Regions from separate parts of the Homo sapiens genome. Here region 1 is linked to region 2. A link means that fine-mapping ties the variant in region 2 to the expression of a gene that starts in the linked region. Tissue or cell type: nasal epithelium. Region 2 holds a variant in brackets; the other region holds the start of a gene. All regions are shown on one strand. Distances are from middle to middle.

Region 1 (2,819 bases), 76 kb before region 2:
CAGTTTCCTAAAATGTTGGGATTACAACTATGAGCCACTGTACCCAACCCTATTTTTCCTGGATTTTCTCTTCACTCTTACTTCCTACGTTGCCTTTTCTGTTTTATACAATTTCTGCAATTGCTTGTCTTCCTCTTCCTAAAGTCTCTTCCTATCTCTAATGCTTGCATTTGATTTTAAAGCTGTTCTGGCACACTTGAATAGAATCCTGCATAATAATCTTTCACTAATTTTTCCCCCGACTCCTTATCAAATGTTCACTAAAGTGTATAGTTATTTCTTAGCATATATGCACATACTTGCAAAATAGACCACTATAATCTGCACAATTCTTCTTAAATTCAGCTTTTAAAACATGCCTTTAAATGAAGAAAATATTTGTATAATGAGAATAAATTTTGAAGGTTGTTTCACATTCAAGATTCTTTGAGGTTTTTAACCAGAACAGGTTTGGGGACAACAACTGATGCCTCCTTTAATCACAATACATTTTTAAAAAGTTGAGATTTACTAAAATCTACCTTTCAGGATTTTAAAATGGATGTGCAATCTCCACCACTTTTATTGCCAAGGGAGCACGCATCTGCCCTGGAAAACCTTCCTGTGGAGCGATGTCAGCAGAGATAAATGAATGAGAGTACATGCAGTTCTGGAATAATAGTGCAATTTGGCTAAAGGGTGACATCATCTTTTCACTGTTGTATGTGCCATTCTAAGTAGCAATAAGTCCAGCTGAGCTAGAGAATGAATTATAAGGAAAGTACATTGGCAAGGTGGAATAAAATATAAAAAATTGAAAAAGAAGGTAGCTTTGAATAGATCCAGTCCGCAATATATTTTTTGATATGGAAGGTCTTGATTTAATCACCACATCATAATTTGCCATTATTTTGGATTATGTGGAAAGATGCAAAGCTTCTTTCCTAATGGCTGGTTTGCTATATATACACATGTGTACCACCAGAGTATAAATAGGGACGTTGGAATTGATTTTAGTCTTTAAAGTGTACACTTAAATGCTGGAAAATAAAATGCCTTTATCAGTTAAATCTCCTTACTGTGATTCTACATGCCTCATTGGTAACACTTGAAGAAGGGTTTGCTGGGTTTTATTTGGATCGAGAAAAGAATGCCATCATCCTTCATGCTGATGAACCCAGGGGAGGATCAGTTTGTGATTCTGCATGGGTTCTTGAGGGGTCGGCCAGTATTAACTCATTGCTTTTTTTCTCTTTAAGTAACAGCTTTATTGAGATTGGATTAACATCCCAATATATTGCTTCTGTTCTCTAATTTTTTAGAGTGCAACTCAAACCCCTAATATCTCCTTGTCTTCTAATTCCTCAGGCAACAGATGACTTTCTGCAAAGGCACTGATAATAGCTATGAGGAATAAATATTGCAGATGGATTAAATCAAAGAATCAAATTTCAAAGCCAAATTAGTCGTGAAAAGGAGGGAGAAGCAGAAATGAAGAAAAAAGAACCACAGAAGTAAAATCAGCAGCATTGAAAAGAAAATCATCTGCTGTTTGAATAAAGACCCAAGATCTTTCATTGTTGGATCCCCAAAGCCAGTGCCTTTTTTGAGCAGCAAGTCCCAAGATCAAGAAATCAGAAGGAACTAATACTTTAACTAATTAGTAGTAATGAAAATTTACTAGACATCAATGACAAATTTACAAGGCAAATTTATTTCCAAAGTACATTCATATATATCACAGGTAAAATGAGGTTTTCACAAACACCATTTTAAACATAGGGTTTATTTGCAGGAGCTATTTTTGTGGCTTAGGGAACAAATGGTTCATTGAAACAGAACTTTGCTGGTCTGGTTTCAAAGAATTCTATTATATAAAAGATTCTGTAGAACAGATGGGATCAAAAGTCCCTGAACACAGAACAGGAATATCAGGTAATGAAAATGTTCTTTTGGTATAGTATTATGTTTTATGCTTTGAAAGTATTAGTATGCAAGGAACTCAGGCAAGAGCATAAAAGAGGAAGTAGGAATAATACTTTATGTTTGAATAGGCTTTAGACTTTCCAAAATACTTACATCCTACTGAAGCTTGGTAGCAAGTATTATCCTTGTTTTATTGATGAAAAACATGCTTCCAAGAAAGATGCATTACAAGCGACAGAAAACTCAAAGTGGATTACACAGTAAAAGGTATCTGTCTCTCTGTCTGTCTCTGTCTCTGTGTTTTGGCTCACAGAATTGAAAAGTTCAGGACTAGAGTGAGCTTTCAATGTGCCTTGAAAGAGATGTTCGATTGATACCATCAGGGCCCAGATTCCCTTGACATCTCTTAGTTCTGTTTTCCTAGTATGTGGTTAACTCTGATTAGCCAGGATGGAGACAATAACTCCTGAGCTAAATATGTGGAGTGGGGCAAGGATGGCCCTCTACAGGCGAAGGTGGGGGTGCATTTTAATATGAGTATGGGGGAAAGGATCAGATCTGGGCTAGATCTGATATTCAAGAGGTGTAAACAGATGACCAACAAGATGTTAACAAGATGACACGATTAGAAAGATTTTAATCAAGCCTAGAACCCAGCTCCTCTGAATCCTGGCAAAACATAGGTAGGAACAAAACTGGGAAACAAGACAAGGGATGTCCCAGGAGCTGATGTTTCAGTAAGAGCATAGTTGAGAAGAGACAGAAGAAAACAATAGTTAACAGAGGTAGGTGGATTTAGAAAGAAGGCTTTACTTTGAACAAGACTTGATCCCAGTTGAGACTTTGCTGAAGGAATCCCTAATAGACAGACCTGAGCCACCTCCTTCCTTTGTCATATATATGTATCTCATAGG
Region 2 (2,819 bases):
AACCTAACGCTTTAGGCAAACTGCTTGCTGGCTACCATGATCCTCCTAGATTTCTGTTTTCAGACATTATAGCTTCCCCTTGCTGTTGCAGGAGAAAAGCAACTTCTCCCCAGCTTTTTCGTGAACTTTCCTCCCTAGGACTTACTTTCCCTCTCTGTGAAAGGGTGCTAATGGCCAGGAATCATCTTGCCTGTTATCCTCTCTCTTCCACCTCAGTCGGATGGCCCTCTCACCAGGCTCTGTGAGCCCAGCCTCTGATATGCTTCAAGAGCAGGCGATGCTCTGGGCAGGAAGGACATAGAGCCCAGGGCTCAGGAAGCATTCATTCCTTATTCTTAAATGCTTATCTAGATGCTCTTATTGTTGCTGCCTGTAACTTATGGCTCAGTTATTCCCGGCCTGTGCCCCCAACCTTCTGTTGCTTTCTTTCTCCTAGTCCCTGAATCTCATCTGCACCACTTAGCAGATATGTGACCTTGGGCAAATAGCATAACTTCTTTGGGCCTCAGTCTTCTCATCTGTAATATAAAATAGGTTGATAATATCTGTCTTGCAGAGATTAGTTGTGTAGACTTAATGAGTTAGTATTTTATAGAAAAACACCTGACACATAGTACAAATAGTAAAATGGATGCAGAGTCCATTTTCATTTCCATTTTTCTTGATTTTGGCCATAGAAACAATAATCTTTAAACAGTAAATCATCACTAGATCATCTTTTAAACTCAGTCTACCCAATGAGACCCTCAAGCCTCGTCATGTTTCTGTCTCCATGTGCTAATATGCGGTTTGACTCCATAGGGACCCTGGTCCCAAACCCTCACTGCTTTTGATGCTAGTGGTTTTGGGGCCTGCTCCCTCTTCCTGCTACACCCTGTCTTGCTTTTCTGTGTCTCTGAGGCTTACCTCCATATCATTTGTCTATGTCCTTCTCGCTACTATAGCCAGGTGCTGACTATAATAATACCTGCTTTGCATACCTCAGGGATTATTGTGAGGATCAAAGGGGATGATTAACATGTTGTAAGTGCTTTGAGAAGGAAGATGAGCTGCGTCACATGGGTTATTATGATGATTATAACTCCTGGACTGTCTTCAGATGACTAAAAATATCCACCTAGTGTGGACCTTTTCAGCGTATTCTTATCTCTCTTGGACTTCCCTGCACTGGCTGAGAAGCCTGACAGTTTAAAGCAACTGAAGAACTTGCTGGTAGACAGCAGTGTTGGGGGTAGAGAATGCCTGAGTAATGAGTTATCTTCTTTAGGGTCCCAACGGGAAATCTGGTACCCTGGAAAGCGTTAATTTACCTCACTTGAGTGAATGCTTTAGACCCAGCAAGCATTTCATTTGCCCAGGCAGCCCATTGTGATGATGATATTAAATAATCATTATCATTACGTGGAAATTCTGTCACCTTGGGGATTTAGAAAGTGTTTCTCAAGCCATTTATACATAAGCAACCAAAATGAGCAGAATGTTCATCTAGAAGAAAGTATTTGTGAAGAAAACATTTGTTTGTAATTGTCAGCATTTGGC[G/A]AAAGCAGAGAATGAAAGAATGAAATGAACCACAGCTTTGGATTCCTTCCAGCGTTTTTTTTCCAATCCCAAATTGTCAGACTAGGGAGGGAAGTCTTCCTGTCATGGACCCTGAGCTCTGGGGAGGAGAGTAAGAGACTTCAACTTCCTTACCCTCTCCATCCAGGAAGTCGTTTCCAAGGGAGCTGTCTCTAGGGAAAAGCAAGAGCCCGTTGGCTAATATTTATTTATAGTCGTATACCCTGTAAACTTGTCTTCTTTTAAAAATTAAGAGCAAAAAAGTGGTTTTGGTTCTTGTTTGTTTGGACCACCTCCAGACAGTCATATCTGTTTTCTTTATTTCTGTGCTAGTTGCTCAACATTGTAGGTCTTGATTGAATTGGTTTTATTCCTAGGTCCTCCCTTATTATTAATGTTCTTATTATTGGTTAGTTCTTCTATGTTTGCAGTGTCCTTGACAATCTTTTTTTATTAGCTGTTCTTTATAACAACTCAGTGAGTTGGATCAGCCTTACTGAATATTTATCCAACAAACTGTCCAACATTTTCTTTTGTTGGTTTTGGTTAGGATTTATTGCAATCTTTTTTTTTTCTTTCTGATAATCATCCTTCTGCAAGAAACGTGTTTCATGCTCTTTCTTGCAGGGTTATATGAGCCAGGGGCTTGTGTCATCTGCTTTCAATTCATGTTTAGTTTCTTCCTCCCCTTCCTGGCTTTCTCACCCTCCTCAAAGTTATCGTTGTTTCTCCTGGTCAGGCAAATGGCCCTCAACTAATCTAAGGCAGGTTTGAGCAGAGGGCTTCGTTTTTGATTTCTTGGCATTTGGGTGCATCTCTAAGTGACCACAGGCTGTCAGCAATTCCACATGGTTTGTTACCAAATAGGCCATTGCTGCTAACATTTTGTGGCTGTTGTTGCTGTGGCTGGATGGATATTACCTCTATGGTGAACCACTGGAATGTATGAAGAGAGAGGTCTCAGGGATGGTTGAGAATTGGTACTGTAGCAAGAAAGGATACCAATTCCGATCACCCAATAAATATCCCTGTCTTCTGAAACCCACCGTCATCATCACCTTTATCACCAGCAGCCGTTCCCCCACAATAGTGGCTACGCTCAGCCTTGCCACCACCATCAAAACCATTTTATTATGTTTCTATCTATGCATGTATACTTAGACATCCTTGTAGCCTAGACACTTATAAGTAAATTGGACCCGCAATACCATTTTGAACTTTGAATTCTTAATATGTCTATTTTCCTTCTTCTGCCTACCACT

The links. PIP is the estimated chance that this variant, and not a neighbour inherited with it, causes the effect. A credible set is the group of variants that fine-mapping cannot tell apart.
Region 1: LINC02198 starts here. The variant in region 2 is the best candidate, but not a certain one, in a credible set for the expression of LINC02198 in nasal epithelium (TOPMed, PIP 0.54).

The regions. Positions count from the first base shown.
Region 1 is chr5:69,028,692-69,031,510 of GRCh38, reverse strand. It overlaps LINC02198 (long intergenic non-protein coding RNA 2198), which reads left to right and starts at 1,584. Exons shown (of 4, transcript NR_130778.1): 1 at 1,584-1,723.
Region 2 is chr5:68,952,880-68,955,698 of GRCh38, reverse strand. No RefSeq gene overlaps it. Among named protein-coding and RNA genes, the nearest start is that of LINC02198, 76 kb to the left of the region's middle. The variant G/A (reference allele first, on the strand shown) is at 1,540.